Regions from separate parts of the Homo sapiens genome. Here all the other regions are linked to region 5. The links come from fine-mapping of genetic effects on gene expression. A gene starts in region 5. Each other region holds a variant in brackets. All regions are shown on one strand. Distances are from middle to middle. Region 1 has its middle 12 kb from the start of LINC02441. Region 2 overlaps SLC15A4 (solute carrier family 15 member 4). Region 3 overlaps GLT1D1 (glycosyltransferase 1 domain containing 1). Region 4 overlaps SLC15A4 (solute carrier family 15 member 4). Region 5 holds the start of GLT1D1 (glycosyltransferase 1 domain containing 1). Region 6 overlaps GLT1D1 (glycosyltransferase 1 domain containing 1).

Evidence for each region. PIP is the estimated chance that this variant, and not a neighbour inherited with it, causes the effect.
Region 1: its variant is the best candidate, but not a certain one, in a credible set for the expression of GLT1D1 in nucleus accumbens (GTEx, PIP 0.74).
Region 2: its variant is the best candidate, but not a certain one, in a credible set for the expression of GLT1D1 in whole blood (TOPMed, PIP 0.57).
Region 3: its variant is the best candidate, but not a certain one, in a credible set for the expression of GLT1D1 in whole blood (INTERVAL, PIP 0.65).
Region 4: its variant is the best candidate, but not a certain one, in a credible set for the expression of GLT1D1 in whole blood (TOPMed, PIP 0.55).
Region 6: its variant is the best candidate, but not a certain one, in a credible set for the expression of GLT1D1 in liver (GTEx, PIP 0.57).

The regions. Positions count from the first base shown.
Region 1 is chr12:128,012,409-128,017,459 of GRCh38, reverse strand. No RefSeq gene overlaps it. Among named protein-coding and RNA genes, the nearest start is that of LINC02441, 12 kb to the left of the region's middle. The variant G/A (reference allele first, on the strand shown) is at 2,166.
Region 2 is chr12:128,807,876-128,812,926 of GRCh38, reverse strand. SLC15A4 (solute carrier family 15 member 4) reads left to right here. Exons shown (of 8, transcript NM_145648.4): 3 at 2,816-2,984; 4 at 3,454-3,531; 5 at 3,971-4,139. Among named protein-coding and RNA genes, the nearest start is that of SLC15A4, 14 kb to the left of the region's middle. RefSeq lists enhancers at 722-791, 2,026-2,125. The variant C/T (reference allele first, on the strand shown) is at 2,227.
Region 3 is chr12:128,945,321-128,950,371 of GRCh38, reverse strand. It overlaps GLT1D1 (glycosyltransferase 1 domain containing 1), which reads right to left. Exons shown (of 12, transcript NM_001366886.1): 9 at 5,003-5,046; 10 at 2,914-3,034. Among named protein-coding and RNA genes, the nearest start is that of GLT1D1, 94 kb to the right of the region's middle. The variant G/C (reference allele first, on the strand shown) is at 2,202.
Region 4 is chr12:128,817,175-128,822,225 of GRCh38, reverse strand. The region is part of intron 1 of SLC15A4 (solute carrier family 15 member 4); the gene reads left to right. Among named protein-coding and RNA genes, the nearest start is that of SLC15A4, 4.3 kb to the left of the region's middle. RefSeq lists enhancers at 1-77, 138-257, 3,473-3,582, 4,223-4,302. The variant G/A (reference allele first, on the strand shown) is at 3,158.
Region 5 is chr12:128,850,681-128,855,731 of GRCh38, reverse strand. GLT1D1 (glycosyltransferase 1 domain containing 1) reads right to left here and starts at 2,254. Exons shown (of 12, transcript NM_001366886.1): 1 at 2,083-2,254. The coding sequence starts at 2,150. LOC100128276 (a long non-coding RNA gene) reads left to right here and starts at 2,637. Exons shown (of 3, transcript NR_148996.1): 1 at 2,637-2,656; 2 at 3,380-3,539. RefSeq lists an enhancer at 1,273-1,924 and silencers at 1,786-1,985, 2,176-2,275.
Region 6 is chr12:128,902,755-128,907,805 of GRCh38, reverse strand. The region is part of intron 4 of GLT1D1 (glycosyltransferase 1 domain containing 1); the gene reads right to left. Among named protein-coding and RNA genes, the nearest start is that of GLT1D1, 52 kb to the right of the region's middle. The variant A/G (reference allele first, on the strand shown) is at 2,893.

The DNA.
Region 1 (5,051 bases), 840 kb after region 5:
AAATTAAAGAACTGAATCAACAAAGCTATGTAATATTTCATGCTCAAGGCTGTCATGCTTCCATATTAAGATATGAAATATCCCCAAATAGATCAGTAGATTTGACGAGATCCCAATTAAAGTTTCAGAAGATGTTCCTTGTAGAAATTGCCAAGCACATTCTAAAATGTATATGGAAATAGAAAGCACCAAAACAATCTTGGAAAATGAAAATTGAGCACCCTAAAATTTACAATAATCATTGTAACGTATCTCAACCTACTTTCAAATAATATTGACATTTCATGTGTGTCTGAAAATGTACAAGGGCATACTTCTGTTCCTCCCCTCTCATCCTTTGTGCTATTTCTTGCTACATTTTGCTTCCACAAATATTATAAATGCTTTAATTTATTTATCTTATTTATACTTGAAAAAGTCAATTACCTTTTGCATTAATTTAGAAATTAGAAAATAGTTACATTTATATTTACCAACCTACTTACTTCCAGTACTTTTTATTCTCGTGTGTAGTGGATCTTTTCCCCAAAAGAATTTCCCTTAGGGTATTGCCAATCTGCTTCTAATGAATTACTTTAACCTTTGTCTGAAAAGTCTTTGGCCTTTATTTCTGAAAAAGGTTTATAGTGCATATACAATTCTAAGTGACGGGATTTTTCATTTCCTTATAGCTCTGTACTTTAAAGATGTTACTCTTTTTTCTTTTGGGCTGTGTGGTTTCTGATGAAAATTATTTCCTAAGTATGTTCTGTAGAACATAATTTATATACACATAGATTTTCTTTTGCTGTTTTTTTTTTTTTTTTTTTTTTTTTTTTTGAGACAGAGTCTCGCTCTGTTGCCCAGGCTGGAGTGCAGTGGCGCGATCTCGGATCACTGCAAGCTCCGCCTCCCGGGTTCACGCCATTCTCCTGCCTCAGCCTCCCGAGTAGCTGGGACTACAGGTGCCCGCCACGCGCGCCCGGCTAATTTTTTGTATTTTTAGTAGAGATGGGGTTTCACTGTGTTAGGCAGGATGGTCTCGATCTCCTGACCTCGTGATCCGCCCGCCTTGGCCTCCCAAAGTGCTGGGATTACAGGCGTGAGCCACCGCACCCGGCCCTTTTGCTACTTTTAAGATTCCTTTTTATTACTTGTTTTCAGAAATTTTATTATAATGAGTCCCAATGTAGTTTTCTTTATGTTTCTTTGGCTATGGGTTTATTTATCATTTTGAATCTATGCTTTACAGTTTTCATAAGATTTGGAATTTTTTAGCTCTTATTTCTTCAATTATTTTGGATTCTTACTTCTCTCTTTTTTGGACTCCAATTGCATTTAGAAATTAAATATATGATAACCACACAAATATTTCAGTGGAGGGGGTAACAGCTATATAGATACTACAGAAGAAGAAATTACTTTTCTTCAGCCATCAAAAATTATACGTGTGCATCCAAAGAAAAAGTTGCAAAATGAAGCACAGAGATAAATATGTCTTTTTTTAAAAAAGGCAAAACAAAAAAACAAAGCTTCAGTGCCCTTTGAGGCAGTACAAAGCAGTTTAATACAGATTCCTTTTTTCTTCTCATTACATTCATATTCTTCATTAAATCCTTGAGTAGACTCAGTATGTTCACTCTTTTAATGCTCATATCTGAAGATGCCATCATCTCTATCATTTATGGGTCTGTTTCTACTGACTTATTTCCTTCCTGTGTTTAGGTCATGTTTATCTGCTTCTTCATATGTCTTGTAATTTCTTAATTGAAAGCTAGACAGCTTAAATTTTGCATGGGCATATGCTAGATTTTCTGTATTTCTTATGAAATACATTGAACTTTATTTTTTATATCAGTTTGATGTTTAAGTCTTGTTTTAAACCACTTTTAAGACTTGTCCAAAGTACCCTTTAATCTATAGCTAATTTAGGTCTGCTTCTAAGGTGTGGCTCTTCTCTACTGAATGCCTTATGTATAAACAAAACGATTCCCAGCCGTTTGTGACCTCTGGTCATTTTCATCATACAGCTCCTTTGTGAACTCTGGTCATTTTCATCATACAGCTCCCTGGCAATTTTAATTTCCCCAGAAGTTTTTCTTTATTCAACCTGTGAGTTTTTTCCCAATACATATGGAGATTTTTTATCAGCCGAAGGCTCAAGTGTGCCTGTGTGCACATTTTTG[G/A]AACTCCTGCTTTGCACAGCTCCTTCCTTCCAGGTGTTCTGTCCTGTAAGTCCCAGGAACATCAGCCTTCCCAAAGTCCAATCTCTTTCTCCTCAATTCAGTGAGAACAGGAGGCTCTGTTTGGGTTGACCCTCCCTGCCCTGCAGTCCAGAAATTGGGAGTGATAGATCTCATCTTATTTGTTTTTCTTTTTTCAGGTATCGTAGTTTTGCCCTGCCTGTTGTCCAATTCCAGAAAATTTGTTTCCTATAAGTTGCCCAATTATAAGAATAATATTTTTCAAATTTGTTCACTGTAAAAAGGTGATTCTGGGCTGTGTTTCCCTCCTATGGCCAAGACATAAATTTCCCTTCTATTTATGCTCAACTATAAAAACAACTTTCTATGTTTTATCCTCCCATTTTCTTCTTCCTCCTTGTTATTTACCTTCTCCCACCTCTGTCTTACCATTGTCATGACCAACATTATTACAAGCATCAGCTAATGTTTTTTCCAGGTGCTAAGCCAAGCATGTTACTTGCATTTTAGAATTTACTTCTCTTGCAGGGTAAAGATGAATAAATTCTGTGGACCTAATGTACAGCATGGTGATTATAGTTACTAATAATGTGTTGCAACCTTGAAATTTACTGAGAGTAAATATCAAATGTTCTCATCATAGGCGCGCACACACGCAATGTAACTGTGTGAAATGATGCACGAGTTAATAGCTTGATTATGATAATCATTTCTCAATATATATGTGCCAAATCATCGCATTGGACACCTTGAAAATATACAATTTTTATTTGTCAGTTATATGTCCACAAAGCTGAAAAAAAGAAAAACACAAAATTTAATTCTAACAACAGCCCTAAAACTAGGCTGCCAGAAACCCCTTTATCTTAGCCCTCCTGATACGTGTGGTCATATCTCATCATTCTCAGCCTTCCAGCCAACGCTGCAAAGATGCTGGTTTAACTCAGTCTCCTAAAATGCATGAATATGTGCCCCTCTGGTCAGTTGGGGGTCTTTTTAGTTACATCTTATTTTATTTTATTTTATTTTTATTTTCATTTTTATTGAGATGGAGTCTCATTCTGTTGCCCAGGCTGGAGTGCAGTGGTATGATCTCAGTTCACTGAAACCTCTGCCTTCCAGGTTCCAGTGATTCTCCTGCCTCAGCCTCCCTAGTAGCAGGGATTATAGGTGCCCGCCACCATGCCAGCCTAATTTTTGTATTTTTAGTAGAGACGGGGTTTCACTATGTTGGCCAGGCTGGTCTCGACCTCCTGACCTCAAGTGATCCATCCTCCTCGGCCTCCCAAAATGCCAGGATTACAGGCGAGAGCCACTGAGGCTGGCCTACAACTCATTTTAAAGCTATTCATCAGGCTAAACCTGGCTCAGGATTCTGCTTGCTCTTCATATCCTCTAAGAATCTTCCGTGGTGGTCTTCATGTTCTCCCCTCCCACCCTCACTTTGCTAGGTTGAATTAGGCACAGCTACATGCACTTTGTATCCCAACCCATGCACAGCCATAATTCCTGTTGTTTATACCAGAGACTACTCTGTACTTCCTCCTTTCTTCCCTCAGAACGTCAGTGTGTGAGGTCCATCAGCTTCATCTCTTTGTTTCCAATGCCCAGCACAATGCCAGATGAAGTGGGTGTTAGCTAGATTCTAGCTGTATTAATGGATACATGCATAAAAGGATTCACTTTTCTCACTAATAGTCTTAGCTTCATGGAACCAGCGTCATTCACATTCACTTACATAGCCTACTCAATCGGAATCTGCTAACCTCCTTGTCCTTAAATACAGAAACAGTTTCCATATTCCTATTGTACACAATTGGTGCTCATTAATGCTCTCTTAATCCCCTGAGAAGTGGGAACCATAAAATCCAATTGAGCAATTGAATCTCTTTTCCTTCTAGCTCGCGCTGGAGCCAGAGGGATGGAGATATTAAAAGTTCCCTGAATCTCATTATCAGCTCAGAATTTTAAGTGTGTGTCCATGCCTCTATCACCCCCTGGAGCATCACGACATGAGTGAAAGCCCAGTGCTTCCCAGGTCACACAGGCTGGTCCCTTATTTTGTAGAGGGTTTAACTGACACTCAGACTGTGACATTCTCTAAGGTCATGTGATAACTTAGTCGCAGAACCAGGATTAGAGCCTATATCCTTCCTGCTTAGCCAGCATAAACTTCCTTCTCATTTGAGTCCTAACTTGGCTCTAATTTCATCTGATTTCTGCATGCATTTTGATATATATCATTTATTAATTCATTAATTCATTCATTTGATAAACAATAAGTATTTTATCTGTTATATATGCCAGAAAATACTCAGATAAACAAGAAACAGACTCTACTGTCTTCTTCAACTATTCAGCTTCTATTTAACATTGCTTCAAGCTTTTATTTATTTCAACATCATCATTTTTTAAAGTTGATACATACAAATAGAGCATATCTGAGTCTATACAGTGGCTAGTTCAAAATTGATCTGAATTTTATCTACATTTCTTAGTTTCTGATTTCTTTTTCTTTCAGCTGAATGACTGACATTTACTCCAAAACTTATTTTACTTAAAATGAATGCTTGATTTTTAGTATTTAGAAAAATATGAAATATATAAAATGCCCTCTGGTATACTTGAATTGAATTTTCTTCCTATCACAAACATTGAATTCTTTTCAAAGCATAGTTTAATATGCCTGTGCAATCGTGCACAATGATATATTCTAGGTTGGCCTCATGAATGAATTTTGAGACAATATCCTATTCCCAGCACTATCACATTGTATAGGGAAACAATTTTTAACTTTGTATTTGATTGATTAACCTTAGTGTTTTGAAATTGGGTTAAGTATTATATATGACCACACATGAATAAAAA
Region 2 (5,051 bases), 43 kb after region 5:
TTTGAAAGTCTTCTTGGGCAAAAATAAGGGAAAAAAAAGCAGGGGCTAGCTTGCAGAAAAGTTGATGGTCTGAGGAATTCTCAGATTCTGCTGTTTGTATGAACTGGCTCTGTAACCTTGGGCAGGTTACTGATCTTGCGAAGCCCAGCTTTCCTTTTTTTACAGCGGAGATGGATTCATCTCATGGGCTCACGGTGGGGCCTGAGCACAGTGATGTGTGCAAGGCCCTCAGCAGGATGCCAGGTACATGATAAGGGCCCTGTCAGTGGTGACCACTGTGACGAGGGTGCCTTAAAAAAGGTGGGCCTCCAGGCTGGGCGTGGTGGCTCAAGCCCGTAATCCCAGCACTTTGGGAGGCCGAGGCGGGCGGATCACGAGGTCAGGAGATCGAGACCATCCTGGCGAATACGTGAAACCCCGTCTACTAAAAATACAAAAAATTAGCCGGGCGTGGTGGCGGGTGCCTGTAGTGCCAGTTACATGGGGGGCTGAGGCAGGAGAATGGCGTGAACCCGGGAGGCGGAGCTTGCAGTGAGCCGCGATCACACCACTGCACTCCAGCCTGGAAGGTAGCGAGACTCCGTCTCAAAAACGAAAAAATAAAATAAAAAAAAAAAGTTGGGCCTCCAAAGCCTGAGGAAGCATGACATACCCAACATTTTTACAGTTGTGACACTTAATTTCATCTGGCCCAATCTCAGTTTCAATCCAGGTTGATCTGTGTTTTGAAGATAATATAGTGCTTGATATTAAATGAGAAATGAAGGCGTATTTGTTCAACTCATCAGACCAGAGTAGAAATGGTTCTACAGCTTTTTGAGATACATACTTCTTTGGGAATCCGTGAGAACCAGTGGACTCTTTTCCTGGAGAATACACACACCTACATGCGGCCTTCACAGAGACTCAGGCACAGGCGTCCTGAAACTGGAGCTCGTCAACTTGTGTGGGAGGAGCAGAGGGCTCTTGTGGGTGTTCGGGTGTCACTTGTGACCGTGGCTTCGTGTTGGACCCTTGTATGTTGCAAAATAGTGCACCTAACAATATGTGTAACCCAGTAAAGCTTCAGATGCATGTTGATTTCACAGCTTTTAAATATTTTAATTACATAAAGCGAAAGTAATATAACCAGTAACCTGTGTGAATGATTCTTTGTGTGAAAATGGGTTTATTTGTTATTTAAATGTTTTTAGTGAAAGGTATTTAATATGATGTGGTAAACCACTGATAGTATCTGCATTAGGTACAAAAGGACTTTAATTTCCTTTTTGAAAAAAAGTAGTACTTGAAGAAGTTAATGTTTTCGAGTGAAAGTATTTATAATGTCTTTGGAATTTATTTTCACTTTTGGGTGTTTTTGTTTTTGATTATTTTCCCCCACTAGACTAAGTCCGTAAGGACAGGAGCCCTCCCCTTTAGCCCCCAGGTAGAGCAATGCAGGGCCTACAGCAGGTACTCGATCAGTATTTGTTGAATCGAACTTAGTTTTCTTGTCCAAAATTTGGCTAAAATATTCAGTTATAGTTTTCAGCGCTTCTATTTTTCCCCACTCTGAATGTCCAGACTTAAAATGTTGACTTTATAAGATAAAGAATTTAAAATACTGGCACCATAGTAAAATGGGACATGAGTTAATAAACTAGAAGGCTGACAGGTGCCATTTCTGTTGGCTTCCCACAGTTAAACACAATCTTATTGGGAATTAACTCTCTCCTGGTACTTCTGGCTTTAGAGAATAGTGTGCACTTTGTTTTCCCATTTTACCCCTGAGATCCTTGGAGCCCGTTCCCCATTAGAGTGTTTTGGAGCTGGGAGAGAGTGCGGAGCTGTCTAGTGGGGCCTGTTCATTTTCTAAATAATGAAGCAGGCCCAGAGCAAGGAAGTGAAACTCGTTAGTACAAGAGCTGGGGATGCCAGGTCCATGTTCCTGCTGTGACCGGCAGATGTGAGGGCAGTGGCAGGGAGTGGAGGGACAGTGGTGTCCTGCAGGGGTCAGGGCCTCAGGCTGTAAAGCCAAGACTGCCTGGGTCCAAGTCCTGGCCATACCTCAGGCACCCTTCACACTCTCTGTGCCCCGGCATCTTCCTCTGTGCAATAGGGCCCTGAAGAGTTTTAACACCACATGGTTAATGAGGGAGCACATGGGACGCGGTGCACTGGGCACTCCCTGTTTCCTACTGTCAGGGGACAGAGCCAGGGACATCCTCCTCTCATCACCACCAGCAC[C/T]GCCCTCCCCCAACAGCTCTTCCTTAATCCAAGAGCTGACAGCTTTCCTCCGAGAATAGAAGCCTGCCTCAGTCCTGCCAGTGACTCAGTTTAAACCAGCAGGGTTTTATTAACAGCATGGGTATTGGCTGTCAGGTCTTGATGTTTGATAAATTAGCTGATTAAAAATTCACACAATCCAGTGCATTTTTTCATATGCTATCCAGTGGCATAGCTAGTGTCCCTCCCAGTGTCACGTAGAGCTGCAGACTCTCCCCACACGGAGATTGCCGAGCTGGCAGCTGCGCTGGGGCTCTCAGCTCAGCCGTGGTTCACACTGTCATCACAGATCTTCCAGCCACGCCAAAATTACAGTAGCCCAGTTTCACTTTGACTAGAAAGTCCCTTTGTCAGCTGTTTCAGTACATTCTGTGACATTTAGAAATAATTTAGGTAGCTGTGTTGGGTGTGTACAATTAGTAAGTGATGGAATGAGTTGAAGCAGATTCAATACAGTGAGCTGGTTTCTTACCTCCAAACTTAATTTGTGACCAAATAATTGATTGCTGGGAGGGGAAGAAAACTAATTCCTTCATTTTATTTCCCAAAGTGAAGGCATTGGAGTCTTTCAGCAATCTTCTAAACAAAGTCTGTTTGATTCATGTAAGATGTCTCATGGTGGGCCATTTACAGAAGAGAAAGTGGAAGATGTGAAAGCTCTGGTCAAGATTGTCCCTGTTTTCTTGGCTTTGATACCTTACTGGACAGTGTATTTCCAAGTGAGTGGTGACAAACAGGTTTAATTTCCTTTATCTTCCTATGAAGTCTTACCCTAGCACTTGTTTTGGCCATTTCTAAAGTAGGTAGGACTAGGTGATTTTTTTTCCCATGAGTCTACAGAATCTTGGAATTTTTGGTTTTAGTTATGGAGTCATTTTGGCTGCTTTAACTATGTCTAAAGCCTCTCTGAAAAAGAAGCTGAGAACAGGTACGCTTCTGGTTTTTCAGGCCCCTCTTGTTAATGTAATTTCTCCTTTGGATAACTGGCCATTCTTTTTCAAAATTGATCTCCAGAGGACTTTACGATGACCAAATCATTGACCTGTCTGTTTTCAAACTTGAGCCATTGTCTATTTCTGGGAGTCACTGTGTGTCGCATCTGAGTCTAGCTTAGGGGAGGGGCAGGATGCTTAGAGTGTTTGAGAGCACAGTTGGTCCACATATAATGATACTGTTTTTTATACCTAGATGCAGACAACATATGTTTTACAGAGTCTTCATTTGAGGATTCCAGAAATTTCAAATATTACAACCACTCCTCACACGGTAAGAACAATTGTAATGATCTGAACATTGTTATTTTGGACTTATGTAATAAATGGATTCCTTCTACCAACTGTAAATCTTTTATAAATGTTAACAGCACCGACACAAAAGCATTGTTATTGAAATAGAGTTTTTACTTATTTTAGAGAATATTTTTTCATTGGTTGTATCATTTGCTAGATTAGGTTGACTAACATCAATTCAACATTACTTAGTATTTTTCACCTGATTATTTTCCCCTCAAAACACAGAAAAGCAAATGCAGATTCATTTGGAAAGAAATCTTTTCCCAGTTCCGTTGTCTCTAAACTGAAGAGGTTGTACCTTGTGGAGAGGAACTGTTCTTTACGTGCATTTCTCCCATTGAGACGTTGGTTCTCTAGACAGGTGATGGCCTGTATTGCGGGGAGTAAACGCCTCCTCCTGTGTTTCACCCCAGCTCCCTGCAGCCTGGCTGACCATGTTTGATGCTGTGCTCATCCTCCTGCTCATCCCTCTGAAGGACAAACTGGTCGATCCCATTTTGAGAAGACATGGCCTGCTCCCATCCTCCCTGAAGAGGATCGCCGTGGGCATGTTCTTTGTCATGTGCTCGGCCTTTGCTGCAGGTAAGAGGCATTCTGCTCCGTTCCTCCTCAGGCCCGACTGCAGCAGTTGTGGATTCAGAATATAGTGCTCACACGCAGTCGTGCCCCAGGTTGTTCAGGAAGTGCATGTCTGTAAAAGAGGATGTGTATCAGTTATTTTACAGCACTAATCCTTTATTTTAAAGTTTAAGATTATTTTCCTAAGGATACGTCATTTTTCTGCTGGTACTAAAACCATTGGGTTGCTCTGAAAAGTGACATTTGGACTGAGTTAAAGGGAGGTTTTTCTCTACCTACTGATTTAGAATTAGGCTATTGAATGCTGAATAGATGAATTTTTGTAAATTAAAGGTACTGTATCATCCTCAAGGATGAGAATTCCACCTTCAGATTACTAACCTTAGGTTTATTAACAAGTGTCAGGGTGCCTGCGAGTCCTTTGAATTTTTTATGTAAAATTCTGTGTGCATTTTTCTGGTGACAAAAATGTTTCTAGATTGTTACAGGCTCCTGGGCAGCATCTCCTCCCGCTACAGATAAACCTGATAAGAACAAATGCCTAAGTCTCTAAACTCTGATGAGGAGAGTTATCCTTTTGAGGATTTCCATTCTGTTTTCATAATTTTTATGTGCTGAAATGAGTTGTTTATCTTTTGCTGATAAAGCTGGGTATTGCTGACTTTCTGAATTATTTTGGAGTTCTCCCTTCATTAATATTTGAAAATTATTGACTGATGAAACAGCTTAGTTACATAATAATAAAAGTTGATATTCTTGAACCAACTATGTATTATCTGCTGTCATGAGGAATTCAGTGTTAAGCATTGCTGAAATGGAATTTAATATTCTCAAACAATGCTGCCTTCATAGCAGCTTTCATCTACTTTTGCCAGACTGAATGTATTGATATAGTACTTAATAGATTTAAAGAAA
Region 3 (5,051 bases), 95 kb before region 5:
TGAGGGTGCCAATGGCATTTGGGTACAACTCTGATGCAATGAATTGATTAGAATCAATTCAGATAGCTGAAGTGTTCAATCATGGAATAAGTGTCTATCACTTTTGAAGGAAGTGATCTTTTGACCTTTCAGAATTAGCTATATTCTGGCACCTTGAACCGGCACCCCACCTCCCTGCAGCTGCTCCATCCCAAATACATGCCAGTAGCATCTTCCTAATGATGAAAACTCAAAAGGCCCTTCGCTTTTCAAAGTGGGAAAGGCCTCGCACTGCCGTATCCACACACACACTTACAAACACTTACAGACACACACACACACTCAGAAACTAGTCAAGGTTAAAGTGACACAGAGTCGCAGCTGCCTTTGAATGCCTTCACATCCCACTTCAATCACTAGGGCTGGAGTCTGGAAGCCAAGAGGCCAGGAATCCCCTCCTTCCTGCAGGTGCTCGTCTCTGCTTTAGAAGATGGGCTTCCTCTCTCTCAGGCAGAGCGTGTGTGTGTGCGTACACGTGTGTGTACGTGCGTGTGCATGTGCGTGTGTACATGTGTGTGCATGCATGCATCTGTAGGTGCATGTGTGTGAGCGTGTGTGTGTGTGCCTGTGTGTGTGCGTGTGTGTGTGAGCCTAATCATGATGGCTGGGATAAGCAAATAACTGTTTATATACTTTTAATGTAATTCTCTGCAGGATTCAACTCCGTCAAAAAGCTCAAAAGTGGAAACAACTGATTAGTTGTAGAATTGTTCACCCCGCTGCCCACGAATCCAGCTAAAGTTTGATTTTTGGAGTTTATCAGTAAGAAACGTGTTTCTGCAAATGGGACGTTTCTATGCTTCCATGGGAAAATACAGCTAATTCTGAAAGGTCAAAAGGTCACTTCCTTCAAAAGTGATAGGCACTTATTCCATGATTAAACACTGTGGCTATCTGAATTGAATTCTAATGAAATGCACCCTTACCACTCCTCTAAAATCAGTTTCATTCAAAACACTTCGCCCAAAGGTTATTTTGGAGTTTTCAAAAGGAACACAACATCAAGATTTTAAGGCAGTCAGAGTTGCTAACAGCTGCCTTTGCTTTGAAGTAAATGAGGTTTGACAGCGATTCATCCGCAGTGAAGTGCTGTGTGTGCTAGTTATAAAATCATTCCCGAATTTCACTCTACCTTTCCTTAAGAAGTTGAAAAAAAATGTATATTTACCTACAAAGGAGCAGTTCACAATAGTTCAAATACTGGTACCATAAGCATATACACTTTTAAAGCCTACATGACGAATAAAATGTATTGCCCCGAGGACTGCAGTTGGGAGGTAATTTGAAAGGACAATGGAGATTAATACTAGTGACAACCCCTAAGCAGAGGTGCTGACATCTGGCTGAGGATGATCACGTTACAAACTCACACTTTGTGCTCTGAAAGCACCTAACAGCAGATTCATGGGCACGGACACACAGCTTCTGCCATCTCCCTCTGTGTTTTTTTCTTTGGGGTCTTTTTTTTCTTTTATAAATGATGCCAAATTAAGAGCAAATATTATGCATACAACGTCAGTCATTTCTTAAATGTAAGGAGAGGATTTTTTTCCTAGTTTATTTACCATGTTCTCTCTGGACCCCAAAGGTTTGCAGATCTTAACTTTTGTCAGTAAGTTCAGTACATTCACCTGGTATCCAAGGGGATACATGGATATCCCAAAGACTTATGATAAAGTAACAGCGTGAACCTAAGTAGACACTGACATAAGAAATCTACGTATTCAGAAAGAACACATGAAACCTGGATCAAAGACCTCAGGAAGCAGTGGCCACATGTTTCCTTTCGACAGGAAAACAGGCTTTATCACGTGCCCATCAATGCTTGTTTACGCCATGTCTGTCGTGTGCAGTGTGTGTGCTGAGAACCACCAAGGGAATCAGGCTTGTGGTCCTGGGTGCTTTAATCGCATGAGGAAAACCCAGTGCTAAAGGCTGGCGTTGGTGTGAGTGAGCCCAGCCTGCCCTTTTCTGGGTTCATTCTTCAGGAGCCCCCAGGGCAATGAACTAACAACGAAACAAGAGAAGGAACATCTTTTTCTGTGAGACACATGCTGGTGATTCTCTCTAGGACCTAATATCAAGCACCGAAGATAATGGTTAAATACCCCAGTCAAAAACCTCTCAAGGAGGAGAAGAGATGTAGGTGGTCCCATTGCAAA[G/C]GGAATGCGAGGATTGCCAGGATCTTTTACAGAAGAGGGGACACAGCCCAGCCAGGGCCTGCCTGGGTTTCACGAGCACGGCCTTCCCACTCCAGCCTCGGTCCTGAAAACACAGATATGCTGGTGGGGAATTGCAGAGTGGTGCTGGGATAGACACATTTTGTCAAAAAAGATGAAGCGATTTTATAGAGCTGACTGCTAGATGAAGAGATCAGATCCACCCTGGCCCCCACGCCACCCCGTCATCTACGAACACTACCCTGCCCCTGTCTCCTGCCACCTGCAAAGTCCAGCCCTTTCTTCCCCTCCCTTAAATTCTGGAATTACAGAACATATGGAAAAGAAAGAGAAAAGATCAAGTAAAGGGAGGCTTCCTGCAAAAATACCTTCAATCTGTTTCCTGTCTCAATCTTTTGTAACCTTAGCTGCCTTCCTGTCAGAGATATTTAGAAGGTCAGAGAGGCAATGCTATCCCAGTTTTATTTTACATCGTAGCTGGCTAGGAGAGATAGCAATGAGAAATGAAATGATATTTTTAAACTCCCAGATAGAACTTCAAAAGTACTTTTGAACTCCAACAGGTATGCTGCTTGGCCTTTTTAGCTTTGAGAAGTGCAGAATGTTATTGACAAAGACGTCACCTCCGTAAATAGGAGAAGGAGTGATGGACAATTTCACACTCCCACTTTCAGTACTCGAGTTACATAATTACCTCCAAAATTGCAGCTGACATGCCTTCAGAGACAGAGCTATTCACCACCGCGAAGCAATTCTTCACCACCGCGTGCAGATCTTCTTGAGGCATCTCTCCAATCAATCGTACCCCAGCGGCTCTGAAACACAAAGCAGGAAGAGTGGCTCTGATTCCAAGAATCTCATGGGTAGGCAGCTGGGAGGAGGAGAGATGACAATTTGGGTGTAATACTCTAGATCAGCAAGTAAGCATTGTTGACCAAGCGTTCAGCCAGGAGAACTATACTGGGGTGGAAATCCTTACAGCTCATGTCCCTGACAAGGGAGGGAGGGAGTTGCTTAACATGTCTGCTTTTGTTTTCCATATGCTCCATAAAGACACCTGCTCTCAAGGACTAGAAGAGTCAGAGACAAGGTTCATGCCATTTTCTCTGCATGATTTAGAGAACATTTTTCTAATAATTCAACTTTTTTTCAAATAATTCTTTAAAATACTAATGAGACAATAAGAATAGAAATAATAGAAATAGGCCGGGTGCAGTGGCTCACACCTGTAATCCCAGCATTTTGGGAGGCTGAGGCGGGCAGATCACCTGAGATCAGAAGTTGGAGACCAGCCTGGCGAACATGGCGAAACCCCGTCTCTACTAAAAATACAAATATTAGCCAGGCGTGGTGGTGCGCACCTGTAATCCCAGCTACTTGGGAGGCTGAGGCAGGAGAATTGCTCGAACCCGGGAGGCGGAGATTGCAGTGAGCTGAGATTGTGCCATTGCACTCCAGCCTGGATGACAGAGCAAGACTAGGTCTCAAAAAAAAAAAAAAAAAAAAAAAAAAAAAAAGGAGGCCGGGCGCAGTGGCTCACGCCTGTAATCCCAGCACTTTAGGAGGCCAAAGCGGGTGATCACGAGGTCAGGAGATCGAGACCATGGTGAAACCCTGTCTCTATTAAAAATACAAAAGATTAGCCGGGCGCAGCGGCGGGTGCCTGTAGTCCCAGCTACTCAGGAGGCTGAGGCAGGAGAATGGCGTGAACCCAGGAGGTGGAGCTTGCAGTGAGCTGAGATCACGCCACTGCACTCCAGCCTGAGCGACAGAGCGAAACTCTGTCTCAACAACAACAACAACAAAAAAGAATGGAAATAGAAATACTAGAGACGATAATGTCACAAAAGCCCTGTTCCCAGCACACAGCGCTGACAGCTATTTTGTCATAGACATTTTGCCTTGTTCTATTTTTTTCACCAGACAATGTAAATCTTCGCCTTTCTTCGATCTTCCCCGTCCCCACCGCTGGCCACCACTCTCATGGCTCTGCCAGGCCTCCCTTCCCCGAGCAGGTGATACTTTTGCACACACGCGTCTGCACCTAGGAGCAATCTAAAGATCCCTGATTATAGATGGGGAAAAAACAGTCTTTGTCAGTGCCCTTTGTGGTTGGTGTGGCCAATGAGTCTGGCTGGAATCCTGGGGGGCTGTGAAGACACCACTTTACAGGGGGCTGACCCAAATAAGACCCACATCCTTCTGGTCTGCTCATTCCCATCACCCCACTTAAAATGCAGACTGATGACACAGCTCTATAGCTACCATGTCACCTTCAGGATGGGAGCCACAGGCTGAGGAAGTCAGGACAGAGACAGGAGCCAAATCCCTGAGGTCTCAGGGAAGCCTCCGTTTTGCTCCTTGAATGACCACCCTCAGACTTGTTGATGTGAGCAATGAAAGTTCAATCTGTTCAAGCCTGTGCTGTTGGGTTCCTGGCCGACAAATGCAACTTATAACCAACACACCAACAAATTGCCCTCCAGGCAGGCTGTGACAAAGGGCAATACCCCTCCATTCTTCCAAATCCTTGAGAGTTTAAATCTTTCCATTCTGGCCAATGTGATCCATTAAAAATTATAATCACAAAGTGATTTTTATTGGCCTTTCCCTGGGCAAATAATAGTGCCTAGGATGCCACGGGCTCGCCGGGAAGATGCATGAGGAAACAGTTGGAAACTGCTTGGAATAGTGCCTGGGACTGGATAAATGTGAGTTCAGGTAACCCAGGGGCCACTCAGGCTTCCCGTTCTGCAAAATGACTGGTCTCCACCAACTCTTACCTTTTCACTTTGGCTTTCACTTCCCTTGTAAACACTGGATCGACCTGAA
Region 4 (5,051 bases), 34 kb after region 5:
AGGGAGGAACCACTGCAGCTCTTCAGGAGGGGCAAGGACGTGGCCACCAAGTATTATATGCAGAATAGGCCGCCTTTAAGAGCAATAGCAAAGTCAGATCGTTTCAGAAAATATAAAAAAAAGTGGGAAGTGAGGTGGAAGGCTGGGGCCGGATCATGTGAGGAGTGTTAAAGCGTTGGGGATACAGTCGAGAGCTTTACTGGGTTCCAGCAGGGAGTGATTTGTGCAGAGCAGGCACTACAGCTGGGGTAGCAGGTCAGGTCTGCTTCTTATTTTCTGAGGATTCACAAGCTAAGAATGGTTCTTAATATTTTCTTTCTTTCTTTTTTTTTTTTTTTTTTGAGGCGGAGTCTCGCTCTGTTGCCAGGTTGGAGTGCAGTGGCGCGATCTCAGCTCACTGCAACCTTCACCTCCTGAGTTCAAGCGATTCTCCTGCCTCGGCCTCCTGAGTAGTTGAGACTACACGTGCACGCCACTGTGCCCAGCTAACTTTTGTATTTCTAGTAGAGACGGGGTTTCACCGTGTTGGCCAGGATGGTCTTGATCTCTTGACCTTGTGATCTGCCTGCCTCGGCCTCCCAAAGTGCTGGGGTTACAGGCATGAGCCACGGCGCCCAGCTAGTTCTTACATTTTTAAGTGGTCGGAAACGGGATCATTTGTGACCAGTGAAAATTTTATGAAAATCAAATTTCAATCTCCATAAATAAAGCGTTATTGGAACATAGCCCCACCTGTTTCTGCAACACAGCCACTACACTGGGGCTGCTTTCACTAAGCAGTGGCAGAATTGAGTAACTGTGATGGAGACGAGATGTCTCATAGAACTCAAAATGTGAACTGCCTGCCCCTTCACAGAAGTGTGCGGATGCTTGTAGAGAATGGGTTGTGTAGGAAGTGGTGACATTAGGGACATGAGGTGGGAGTCTCTCCTAACTAGAGTGGAGGCAGTGGAGGTGGGTGAAGTGGATGGATGGAGTTCAGCTATGGAAGTAGAATGGGCAGGAAGTACTGGCAGGTTGTCTCCCTGTTTGTGTTCCTATGTAGGAATACCTGAGGCTCAGTCATCTATAATGGAAAGATGTTTCTTTGGTTTAGGGTTCTGCAGGCTGTACAAGAAGCAGGGCGCCAGCATCTGCACTGCTGAGGGCCTTGTGAATGGGAGCCAGCTGTGTAGAGATCACATGCACTAGAGGAAGTGAGAGAGGGGAGGGAGGTGCCAGGCTTGTAAACGACCTCTCTCATAGGAGAGTTCACTCCTGTGACAGCCCCAAGCCTTTCTTCAGGGATCCGTCCCCATGACCCAAACACTAGGCCCCACGAGAAGCACTGGGGATCACATTTCTTCATGAGGTTTGGAGGGTCAGATATGGAAACCATGGCATGTGAGCAGTAGGGAAGGCGACTCTTAGGCTTTTGCCTAAGTATCTGTGAGTGCCTGTTTTTTAGGAACATTTACTGAGAGCTTACTGTGCACCAGGCACAGTGCTTGCTAAGTACCTAAGTACAGTATCTGGTTAGTCCACATGACACGTATGCTACATGTCTACATGTCTACACGACTACTTAGTCTACATGACACGTACGGTGCCCATTTTACTGATGAGGAAACTGAGGCTTGAGAGGTTTAATCATTGGCCCAAAGTTACACAGCTTGTATGTGACTGAGCCAGGATTCAAAAGCCTGTCCTTTGAATGTGAGCTTTCACTCTGCCTGTGTAAGGCTATCCGTTACAGTCAGGAGACACCTTAGAATGACGTTAGAAATGATAGTTTCTAATGTACTGAATTGGAACTGGGTTTTTTGTACAGTGGCGTATGCTTTACATATGTGACGAAATCTGAACCTCACAGGAGTCTTAGATCCACTTTACTGATGAGGAAACAGGCACAAAAACAGATCACTTTCTTACTGCCTGTAGGTAGTGAGTGGTCAAGCTGGACTTCTATCCCAGCTCTGGTTCTTTTTTAGCTACCACACTAAGATGGGCCCAGTGTGCGTGCGTTCCGTAATGGTTCTGCAGGGCTGGATCTCAAGGCCCAGGCTCTTGGCCTTGGGGTGCCATTGGCTCATGAAGGAACGGGGCTGGTAGCACAGTCAGCCTCTATCTTTTAAAGACTTGGCCACCCCACACAGGTGTACTGGAAAGCTTCTATTATGCCTCTTACTTGTGCCTTTCCCACGTGATCTTATTTAAGCCTCGCCACAGTTGCTGGTGTGTGTGCTGCAGTTAAGCCTGTTGTCCAGGGAACAGAGGCCTAGAGGGTTAGCTCCCAAGGCTGCACAGCAGGTGCCTAGGGGAGCTGGTTTGGGGCCCTGGCAGCCTGACTTAAAAGCTGGTGCTCTCCAGGATATAACAGGCGAGTAATTGATACTTCTTAAAATGAGGAGGAAATGGTGCTCGGTTATCTCAGATGAATCTGACAGAATATGCGCTCTTTCATCCATAATTAAATGTGGATGTTGAAAGGAGATGTGCCTTCTTCCGAAAGATAGCTGGCCTGATCTCTTCCGACGTAATGCTGTCATGTTAAAAGAGGACCTTGTGGATGAAAGGCTACTCGGGAGACCTGGCCGCCCCCTGCAGCGCGTGCTGAGTGATTGGATCCCAGCTGCTTTCATGGCCGTTCTTCTTGGATGCTTGGGATAGTTTGTAGACCGCCTATTAGCTAATAATGGACCAATGTTGCCTTTCTTAGGTGTGGTAATTTCACTGCCGTTAAAAGAATGTCCTTATTTCCAGGAGATTCATGATGAAATTTTGGGGGTGAAATTGGTTGCTGGAGCTTATTTGTATGTAGATCACCCAGAAGTATTTTTTTTTAAGACCAAGTCTTATTCTCTTGTCCAGGCTGGGGTGCAGCGGTATGATCTCAGCTCACTGCAACCTCTGCCTCCTGGTTCAAGCTATTTTCCTGCCTCAGCCTCCTGAGTAGCTGGGACTACAGGTGTGAGCCACCACGCCTGGCTAATTTTTGTATTTTTAATAGAGACGGGGTTTCACCATGTTGGCCAGGTTGGTCTCGAACTCCTGACCTCAGGTGATCCACCTGCCTCGGCCTCCCAAAGTTCTGGGATTACAGGCGTGAGCCACCGCGCTCGGCCAGTATTTTTTATGTATAGAAAAAAGTGCTGAGGCTCCAAGTGAAGGGTAGAGA[G/A]GTGTGCATTTTGCAATTCAACTTTTCTATACATTTGGAATTTTTTTAAATGAAAGATAAGAAAATGTTCACTGATGAATGTATAAACTAAATATAGTATATCCATACAATGGCATATTTTTCAGCCATTAAAAAAGAAATGAAGTACTGATGAGCCTTGAAAACATTCGGCTGCATGAAGGAAGCCAGACACATAAGGCCCCAGTTGTGTGATTCCATTGATGTGGAATGCCCGGAAGAGGCGAGTCCACAGAGACTGGAAGTAGATTAAGGGTTGCCACGGGCCAGGAGAGGGGCGTGGGACTGACTTAAAGGGAACAGGAGTTCCTGTTGGTGTGATGAGAATGTGGACTTGGATGGCAGTGATGGCTGTACATCTCTGAATATACTAGACACTACTGAATTGTACACTTTTGAAGGGTGAATTTTATGGTATGTGAATCATAGTGAAAAAACATTTGAAGGGAAAAGTACCCTTATGCCAGGGTGCTTGCCCGTGACCAGGTGGCAGGTCCCCCTCCAGGTGCGGCTGCTTCATGGCAGGAGGCCTGGCTGGGGACCCTGAGGTGTGCAGGCCTGAAGTACACTCTGTTGTGCCCCAGGCGAGGGTTAATTTGTCCTGGTTTGGTCCTTTTCATTTAGAGGAAACCTGTTTGTATTTTTAAGGTGCTTTTTATGGTTCTTTGTCACTTACCTCTTCATCTCCCAGGTAGAGCCTCTGGGAAACATTCTGATAGGAGAGACAATGGGGTGAGGCTGCATAGCTTTGAGAAGGAGGCCTAGTTGGCTTCTGAAAGAGGATGTGTGAGCTGTGAGTCCAAGGGAGACGTATGTTCGTGTAAATCATGTCAGGCCGTATCTTCCCCCAGTGTTTCACCTTTTTCAAAGGTCACAATCGTTCTTGGTGGATGGATTATTTGAAATAGTGACCTGAAAGACGAAAATCTTATGTTACAGATGAAAAGAGCAAATGATGCATTTTTTTTTTTTCTAGAGGAAAAACTGACACCCCATTTTAAGGAATTCTTCTGTCAGCCAACTGTTTGGTATGCTGTACACAATTCTATTCTTTTAGCTTTTCTTCTCCAAATTGATTTTGGTGGTATCTTTTGGCCAGTCATGTGAAAACCTTGTTTACCCTTGGTAGGGCACGTAGCTGCAGCTCACACAGTGATGTCATGCAAACGATGGGCAGGAGGTTGTGGCCTGCTCGCCAGGGGCTGGGAAGCATGTGATGTCCCTTCACAGCAGCCAGGTTCCCTTGGTACAGAAATGCCTGCTGTGTGGTTATTTAGGGCTTAGTAATTTTGGCTTATAAAGTAATTTTGATGGATTACTCTTGGAGTTGGAATAAATTGACCACCACAATTACACAGGAAATGAGGATGAATGGCATTTTAAGGTTAGGATTTTCCCAGAGTAATCAAATGCTGATATTTTCATGCTTCATCTGAAGAGGACATAAGTCTGAGACTGTGGGAAGATATGTGCAGTGTCACTGTGGGTAACGGGAAGGCCCGAGTGAGACCGTGGGAAGGTGTGTGCAGTGTCACTGTGGGTAATGGGAAGGTCCGAGTACATTTCAGTTAGGAAATCATTTGTGCCTCTATTAAGTTTATATACTATGTTTACTGGCCTCTTTTATGCTTGTCAAAAAATTACTTTTTGTTTGTTATTTTTTCGCACTTCTAGTTTTGTTTTCTCAGTAACCATTTCTCTGCTCACATTTTTCATTTTTCTTCCTGGTCCATGTCTAGTATAGCATGAGAATTGGTGTCCACTGTTGAGCAATATTTAAATGCATTGTGTCCTAGTGAAGAAGTGTCTTAGATGTCTGTGAAGTTCTCACCTCAAACTCTTTATTCAGTAGAGATGTCTGCATTTGGTCTAGGAC
Region 5 (5,051 bases):
TTGGGGCTGCTCTGTCTATGGAGTAGCCAGTCTTTTATTTTTTTACTTTCTTAATAAACTTGCTTTCACTTTAAGGACTCGCCCTGAATTCTTGCTTGTGCAAGATCCAAGAACCCTCTATCGGGTTCTGGATCAGGACCTCTTTCCGTTAACAGTTTTGTTTTATTTTTTAGAGTTTTGATCTGCCACCCAGGCTGGAGTTCAGTGGTGCAATGTCACTTCGCTGCAGCCTCAACCTCCTGGGCTCAACTGATCCTCCTGCCTCAGCCTCCTGAGTAGCTAGGACCACAGGCATGCACACACCACATCAGCTAATTTTTAAATTTTTTTTTGTAGAGATGAGGGTTTCACCATGTTGCCCATGCTGGTCTTTAACTCCTGGGCTCAAGCAATCCTCCCATCTCAGCCTCCCAAAGTGCTGGGATTACAGGCTTGAGCCGCCATGAAAGCCTGCCCTAGGTTTTTTGTTTTTTTTGTTGTTGTTGTTGTTTTTTTTTTTTTTTTTTTTAGATGGAGTCTGGCTCTGTCACCCAGGCTAGAGTGCAGTGGCGTGATCCCAGATCAATTGGCTCACTGCAACAGCTGCCTCCCAGGTTCAAGCGATTCTCCTGCCTCAGCCTCCTAGTTTTGCTTTCTTAATAGCACTAATCCCTATGTGAAATCACCTCCTTCATTCCTCTCCCATACTGGGATGCTGGTTCATCCAACAGAGCCAGGAACACAAAGGGCTCCTCACTGCTAAACCCAAGCAGAGCATCACTGACCTATTTAATAGAAACCTGCACCATGAAACCTGAGTGTAAATTTTCCAGCAAATTTCAGAAAACTGATGGATCCTCTCTTGGTCATTTCTGCTTATGATCTTTAGGAGAAATTAGCTGAAAGGGACATGAAAGTGTTGGTGGAGTCTCAATTGCTCATTTTAATGATGAGGAGGCCGGGCACAGTGGCTCATACCTGTAAACCCAGCACTGTGGGAGGCCGAGGCAGGCGGATCACCTGAGGGCAGGAGTTCGAGACCAACCTGGCCAACATGGTGAAACCCTGTCTCTATTAAAAATACAAAAATCAGCCGGGCGTGGTGGTGCACACCTGTAATCCCAACTACTTGGGAGGCTGAGGCAGGAGAATGCTTGAATCCAGGAGGCGGAGGTTGCAGTGAGCCCAGATTGCGCCACTGCACTCCAGCCTGGGTGACACAGCGAGACTCCATTTCAAAAAAATAAATTGATGGGGAAACAGGCCCACAGAAGGGAAGTAAATCGGGAAATTTCATGAAGCAAGTCCGCTTTTACACACACACACACACACACACACACACACACACACACACACACGGCTTCTGTTAAGCTGCAGGCTCTAATCCTGGCACTTCCCAGGCTTCGCCTCAAGGAATATGTTTATCCGGCTAATACAGGCCGAGCGCCCGCTGTGCGGGTGGGAGGCGGCGGGATTAACGCGGCGGCCCCTCCCCGGGCCCCCGCCGGGCTTGCGTTCCAGCGACCAGAACACAGACCAACAAGTAAACAAATAAGACAAAGGCAGAAAAAGATGAGTGTGAAGGAGCTAACCAGCCAGGAAGACGAGAATAGACAGGGCAGAGGGGAGGTGGGAAAGGGACTTCGGGGACAGGACCCCGGACGCCGGCACACAGCCGAGACCCGATCCGCGAGGGCAGGGCTGGCACCGCGGTCCCCGGCCTGGAAACGCGCCCCCGCCGGGAGCTCCGCGGACCCCGCTGCGCATCCCTGCGGATCCTGCTCCCATCCTGCTTCTGCAGCGAGGCCTTCCCGGGCCCCTCCACGACAGGCTCCGGGCCTGTTCACCTGCTCAGTCCCCTCCGGAGAGCGCGAGGCCAATGCGCCGGCCGCACGGAGACCCGGGGACACGCGCGCCACGCAGAAGGCACCGACCCCCGCGCGCCCGGCAGGCGGCACCGGCCCATCCGTTTGTGCGCGCGGCTCGGGACGGCCCCGGCGCGGCTGGAGGGGGCCTGGCTGAGCGCCCCGCGTCCCCGGGTCCCGCGTCCCCGCCCCCCGGCCCCCGGCCCAGGCTTCGTAGGCCCCGGCGCCCTGCACCTACCGAACGCGCTGGGCCGTGACCGCGTTGCCGGTGTGTGGCCGCAGCACCGCCAGGAACAGGAGCCGCATGCCGCCGCCGCCGCCCGGGCCATCGACCGGCCCCGCCGCCGCCGACCAGGCCCCGGGGCCGGCGCAGACGCGGACGGCGGGGGAGCCGGGGCGGCTGGGTCTGTCCCGCCCGCCCCTCCCCGAGGCCGCGCCCCAGCTCGCAGGTTCCGGCGCCAGGCGGGGAGGGGGACAGGAACCGGGGGCCTCGGGCGGCGCGAGCCCTGGGTGCGGGGTGGCGCGGGTGTGCCCCGTGGGGTCCATCACCAGGGTAGCCGCGGTCTGTTTCCACCTGGACCAGGACCAGCGGTGACCACAGTCCCTTCCACGGGGACCAGGACCATCGGTGACCACAGTCCCTCACACGGGGACCAGGACCAGCGGTGACCACAGTCCCTCCCAAGAGGACTAGGACCAGCAGTGACCACGTTCCCTTCCACAGGGAACAGGCAGCGGTGACCACAGACCATTCTCACGGGGACCAGGACCAGCGGTGACCACAGTCCCTCCCAAGGGGACCAGGACCAGCGGTGACCACAGTCCCTTCCCACAGTGACCAGGACCAGGGGCGGCCTTGGTCCTTTCCCACAGGGAACAGGAGCAGGGGTGGCCATGGTCCGCTCCCATGGAAACCAGTGATGGCTTCCATGGGCTTCATTGGGAAATCAGGGCTTCACGGAACACCGGGTTGGCTGCAGGTCTGTGCCCACCGGGACCAGCAGAGACCTCGGGTTCCGTCCCACAGGGTGCTGCAGAGAGGGGCTCTCAGCCTCATTTTCCATGACAACCTGAGTGGGGCCTTGGTCCGCACGAAGCCCAGGATTCCTTTCTAGTCCCATTCCAGGGAACGTGGCATGATCAGTCCCAAATTCCTTCCCAGGCTAGACTACCCTAAAACTAACCCGAGGAGGGGAACATGGGGACTGTGTGAGGAGACAGTAGAAACCCATTTCAGGGCCGCACCTGTCGGGTGAGAAAGATGTTGGAGAGGGGAACCTGGGGTTCATCAGGGTACATGGGCTGCACCTGGTCTGGATCTCCAAACTAGGATACCTTGAGTGAGAGAAATAGGGAACTGAAGGAGGCCTCTGGCAAAATGCCATCTGTGGATTTAAACAAGCACTCCCCAAAACAGCTGTTAAGTGTTTACAAAGATGCACATGTATTTACAGATGTGGGACATTCTAGTGGGTGCCCAATATTTCCATTGACCTTCAAACTTGATTTTCTGTCATCCCCTAAATACCTTCCAGCCTCAAAAAGGTAAAGTGGGAATGAAGAAAGCCATGACATGGGATAACCACCGTCAGTGGCAGGTCTCCGGCCTCCCTACGCAGCATGGTGACCCCCAGGCTTATCAAGATATAAAAGTCCATCCTGGAGGGCACATTCGGCTCCGCAGGCTTCTCCCAGGTACGTCCACCACTCTGCCTCTCAGTGTGGCATGGAGTAGGGAAGAGTTGTATATCATTGTAGAACAATCAAAATCCTGTCCTCCTCTCACTCTCAAAAAAACACCCAGGATTTTGCTCTTCTTCCTGGTATTTCAGCTTCCCAGGCACCAGGCAGGCAGGCCACATCCTTTTTAAAGGACAAAAGCGATCTGAAAATATTATCATTCTGCTAAACAACTTAATACTTTCCAACAGAATTACATAAGCAAACAGGAAAGGGGACAAGTTGCACAGAGCTGTCACAACCCCCTTCTAACGACATTTTAGAAAAAGAGTTTTGACCCCGGGCACGGCGGCTGACTCCTATAATTCCAGCACTTTGGGAGGCCGAGGTGGGTGGATCACTTGAGGCCAGGAGTTCAAGACCAGTCTGGCCAACATGGCAAAACCCCGTCTCTACCAAAAATAGAAAAATAGATGGGCATGGTGGTACAAGCCTGTAGTCCTAGGTACTTGGGAGGCTGAGGCATGAGAATCATTTGAACCCAGGAGGCGGAGGTTGCAGTGAGCCGCGATCATGCCACTGCGCTCCAGCCTAGGCAGTAAAGCAAGACTCAGTGTTAAATAAATAAATAAGTTTTGAGTGGACTCCTGATATATTTGCTACACACCAAGAAGAGGCAATAAAACGCAGTGTCTGGTGTGGTATACAGAAGTAGAGGGGGGCACTTGCCCATGATCTTCCCCTATTTCACCTTGCCCATGGGATATTAAAAGCTAAATGTGAACAGATACATTTCTGATTTTACAAAGGCGACTTCAGCATGAGCCCAGAAAGGAACCTCCCTAAGGAGAGTTGAACTGGCAGCCTTGTGGGCTCAATATCATCCTTAGATGTATTTAGGCTACACCGTGTTTTTCATAAAAGCTGAGCTATTATTTTTTGTTTGTTTTGAGACAGTGTCACTCTGTCATCCAGGCTGGGGGTGCCGTGGTGTGATTATGGATCACTCCAGCTTCCACCTCCTGGGCTCAAGTGATCCTCCCATCTCAGCCTTCCAAAAAAGTAGCTGGAACCATAGATGTGCACCACCATGCTGGGCTAATTTTTTGTATTTTTTGTAGAAGTGGGGTCTCACTATGTTGTCCAGGCTGGTCTTGAGCTCCTGGGCTCAAGCAGTCAACTCACCTCAGCCTCCCAGAGTACTGGAATTACAGGCGTGAGCCACTATACCTGGCCAAGCCACCATTTTTTAATTGGGAGCTTTCATATAGAAGTTGGAATTTCTGATATCTGTTAAAAAATGAGAGATCTGATTAAATGAAGCCACCATCCTGTGGCTGACTGAAGCTGGGAAGCAGCTGCCTGCTTAAGATGAAATCTGAATGTGCCATTTCACACAGTGCTTGAAGGCTCACTTCAATTCCTTGATAACCTCGATCTGTATTCTTGTGTTTAGAAAAAATTTGAAGTTTATTTTTACGTAAATTAAGTTCAGAAGAAGGTGGCCCAAGCCTAATATAGTGGCTG
Region 6 (5,051 bases), 52 kb before region 5:
GTAAACTCAAGATCTATGCTCTGGAATGGATGCGTTTTTCATACTTCTGAGTTCCTTTCAAACTTCTCAATTCCCAGGGATCTCACATGGGGGCAAACAAACAAACAAAAAAACCCACACAGACATAAAGAACATTTGCAGTTCCATCCAGAAATCTCCAATGAGGGCTCACCTTCATAGAAGCTATTAAAAATGATTAGTGGCGGGGCACGGTGGCTTACGCCTGTAATCCCAGCACTTTGGGAGGCTGAGGCGGGTGGATCACAAGATCAGGAGATCAAGACCAGCCTGGCTAACACGGTGAAACCTCGTCTCTACTAAATATACAAAAAATTAGCTGGGTGTGGTGGCGGGCACCTGTAGTCCCAGCTACTCGGGAGGCTGAGGCAGGAGAATGGCGTGAACCCGGGAGGCAGAGCTTGCAGTGAGCCGAGATCACGCCACTGTGCTCCAGCCTGGGCAACAAAGCGAGACTCGGTCTCAAAAAAAAAAAAAAAAAAAAGATTAGCTTCCTGGGACATGATCAATCCCTGGAGCTTCTCCTGCAGAGGTGAGAGGGTTGGCACAGAAAAGAGGTAGTCTAGAGGTGAAACCCACGTGTTCAATGCATTTTTATGTTTCCAGGAGGGTGGGAACTCTAATAAAAGGTATGGTCTGTGTAGTTTCAGCTGCTGCCAAGATGACTTTCCGAGGTAATCAGACATAAAGCAATGGGGCCATGCAGGAAGAGGGAGAAGTAATAAGTAGCTCAAAAGACAGCATGCTTCTACTGCAGACTTTAGGGATAAGGAGACACGCAGCTCATTCCGATTAGGCCAGCGCTAACATCTGCACTGACTTGTGGAGCTCACCTGTACAGGAACTGCACTTGTGACAGCCAATGAGATCTGTCTTGCTTTCTATATTTTAATTTCCAAAAGAATTTTGATGAGTAAATGTACACAAAGTAAAATTACACTTTAGGTTTTGCCTAACACAGCAACTTGAAGAAGTTACTTTTCTTTCACAAGTGCCAAGGCAAAGTAGATAAATTAGGCCCCAGAAGGGGGTGACTCAAAGTTTCCAGAAAAAAAAAAGAAAAAAAAAAAAAGAAAAACCTCACTCTAAAGATAACACCTGAAAACTTAGCCTTTGCAAAGCATATTGATGGGCCATTATGAATGACACTGTGCTTTTTTTTGTTTGAATTTGATAACTGCTTCAAGCAATATTTACTCAAACAGGATTTTTTAAATATAGCTCATAAATAAATATTTGAGTTTAGATAATGTCCTCTTAGAAGAATGCTTATTAGGAAAAGAGTGTGAAAACAGGCATGAGGGGTTTTGAGCCCAATGGAGACATATTAAACCATAACCATTGCTTCTCCTGGTAGAAGCGTCCATTAAGATACACATTTAATTTGTTCGTGGGTGTTTTTTTCTTCTTGGTGAAATTTTTACATTTTCTGGTGAAATTCTGATGAATTTAGACAAAGCGCTCTAAACGTGGACTAGAACTAGAAGTACTCAAGTTTGCATCCTGAATATCTATTACATATTGTAGCAAGAAATCAAAATCCTACATAAAATATTTTCAAACTTCCCACAACATATATTTCAGGATCAGAAATGTGAAATGAATCAAATTCTTGAAAATGTCAAATCAATATTATAATATCAGAAACTGGCCAGCACAGACGCTCACGCCTGTAATTCTAGCATTTTAGGAGGTTGATGCAGGAGAACTACTTGAGGCCAGGAGTTCAAGAGTAGCCTGGGCAACGCAGTGAGACCTTATCTCCACAAAAAAAAAAAAGTCAAAATTTCAGCCAGGTGTGGTGGCATGGGCCTGTAGTCCCAGCTACCCAGGAGGCTGAGGGGGAGAGGATCGTCTGAGCCCACGAGTTTGAGGCTGCAGTGAGCCACGATCACGCCACTGCACTCCATCCAGCCTGGGCAACAGAGTGAGACTCCTTTAATAAAGAAAAAAAAAAAACACTTAAAAGATATATTATAATATCACAAACCAACATAGTAATGCCATCCCAAAACATAACCTACGTTGATCACGCGTGCTAGGCATTAACAGCCTAGCATGCTGACCTGGTGAGGAGCCCACTAGGATTGTATATTTTACAAAGTAGGTACAATGTCAAATTAAGGCTGATATAAACAACACTAAAAAATAATGACTTGAGCATAAACAAAGGCATTTCAAATTAAAAGAGATAAAACCGTCTTTACTGAAATCCAATCAAACTAACTTGTGAAGGTCAGCCAGAGATAGGTAGGCGATCATAAACCCAGCTCCCAAGACAACATTTCCACAAGAGCAGCCCTGGGGGCTGAAGTTCACTCACCGGTTACAAACTAACCCTCACTGGGCACATGTCCGTTCATGTGTCCTCCAGGATCAGATATCGTGTGAGTAAGTTTCAGAAATCCTGAAACAGAGCTGCCCTGAGCACACAACAGCCCTCGCCACACGTGGCCACGTGGCTGATCCAGGGCACGTCTAAGGCCCTGTTTGAATTAAGATGTGCTGTGAGTGTAAAATACACACAGGATTTCAAAGACTTCACACACAAAAAGGTAAAATATGATGTCACTAGTAACTTTCATATTGATGACATATAGTGGGTGTGTACTAGGAAATTCGGCCTTGACCAAACAGAGGCATGACCTGCACCCTTAGCTTCTGGGAAACGGCGTAAGTGGTGTAATACCTGACAGCTGAGTGTTTAGGGTGGGAAATGGGCCAGGCGCGGTGGCTCATGCCTGTAATCCCAGCCTTTTGGGAGGATGAGGTGGGCAGATCACTTGAGGTCAGGAGTTCGAGACCAGCCTGGCCAACATGGTGAAACCCAGTCTCTATTAAAAATACAAAAATTAGCCAGGCATAGTGGCAGTC[A/G]CCTGTAATCCCAGCACTTTGGGAGGCCGAGGCAGGTGGATCGCCTGAGGTTGGGAGTTCAAGACCAGCCTGGCCAACATGGTGAAACCCCATCTCTATTCAAAATACAGAAATTAGTTGGGTGTGGTGGTGGGCATCTGTAATCCCAGCTACTTGGGAAGCTGAGGCAGGAGAATCGCTTGAATCCGGGAGCCGCAGGTTGCGGTGAGCCGAGATCGCACTACTGCACTCCAGCATGGGCAACAGAGAAAGACTCTGTCTCAAAAAAAAAAAAAAAAAAAAAAAAAAAAGACTGTTTTCATGCTTTAACCATCACCTGGACACCAGTGACTCACATGGCTGTGTCCCCAACTGTGCCCTCCTCTGAGGACAGTCCTACATTCTCAGCTCTATTCTGGATATTTACCCGAGTCCAATATTTGTCACTAAGTCAATACATCCAGAACCAAATGATTCAGTTCCTCTCTTTTTCCCCCTCCAAATTCTATTCCTTGATTTCTTCCAAACTGTATTGATAAAAATGTTAGGTTGTATGAACGCTCTTAAACCCCTCTTTATTTCTTCCTTACTGACTGTGGTCTGCCAATACAAAAGTTACCTGTACCACTGTGTTTATGTTTTTTAAAAAAAGTCTTTATCAAAGTACATTTGCAGGTAAAATGGCACATAATTATAGGTGAAATGGCATGATATTGGTAATTTTTGAAATTATTCTCGAAAACATTGTATGTGTGTGTGTGAGTGTAGGTGTGTGTGTGTATTCAGGAGGAAGTAGAGTAAATAAGAATTGAGGAACAATAAACTGGGTCATGGGCACATAAAGGGCTCACTCTACTATTCTTGCTACTTCTACACATGCCTGAAAATTTCTTTAATTAAAAGTTCTGGCCGGGCACAGTGGCTCATGCCTGTATCCCAGCACTTTGGGAGGCCAAGGCGGGCGGATCACATGGTCAGGAGTTCGAGACCAGCCTGGCCAACATGGTGAAACCCCGTCTCTACCAAAAATACAAAAATTAGCTGGGCATGATGGCGGGAGCCTGTAATCCCAGCTACTCAGGAGGCTGAGGCAGGAGAATAGCTTGAACTTGGGAGGCAGAGGTTGCAGTGAGCTGAGATTGCGCCACTGTACTTCACCTTGGGTGACAGAGCAAGATTCCATCTCAAAAAATAAAAATAAAAATATTTAAAAAAACCAAAAGGTTCTAAAGGAGGAGTCGTTCCTAATCAATCAATTTAAAGGATATTCACCGGGCCTGAGACAGTATATACTATTCTCCAGGGATGCACGAGTGACTACCTCATGTCCCTTTCTCAAGAAGCTCACCACTTGAGAAGCACGGGGAAGAAAGTAAAACATGTTATACTCATTAGAGACAAGCATGAAGTGTGGCAGATGGTTACAGAGGCCATCAATTCTCCCCCTCCCTGCATCCGTGCCCTTGTAAGGCAGCATTAAAGATCCTCTCATTATGAGGTGGGGACCGTATCTCCACCCGCTGAGTTGCTTTGGTCAATGGGAAGGAGGCAAGCTTATCACAGGCAGAGGCCTGGAATGTGCTTGTGAGTTGAGGCCCGTTCTCTCTTCCTGCCGAGCCTAAAACAGGATGACAGACCCCATGGAGACAGGCCTCAGGGGTCCCCACCATCCCAGCTAAGGTCCAGGCATGGAAGTGAGGCCACCCTGCGTGTTTAAGGCAACTGGTTTGTTAAGCAGCAAAAGGTAACTGACAGAGGAAGGGAACTCATCTATGCCAATTCTGGAGGGTCAAGGAAGGATTTATGGTGGAGGATGATATTGAAGGCTGACAAGTTAGAGAAAAGGGCAATGAATTCATGGAAAAGGAGCATGCTTCCACAGGTAAAATATTTCTTTCTTTTTTTTTTTTTTTGAGACGGAGTCTTGCAGTGGCACCATCTCTGTTCACTTCAACCTCGGCCTCCTGGGTTCAAGCAATTCTCTTGCCTCAGCCTCCTGAGTAGCTGGGACTACAGGTGCACACCACCATGCCCGGCTAATTTTTTGCATTTTCAGTAGAGACAGGGTTTCGTCATGTTGGCCAGGCTGGTCTTGAACTCTTGACCTCAGGTGATCTGCCCGCCTCAGCCTCCCAAAGTGCTGGGATTACAGGTTGAGCCACTGCGCCTGGCAATTATTT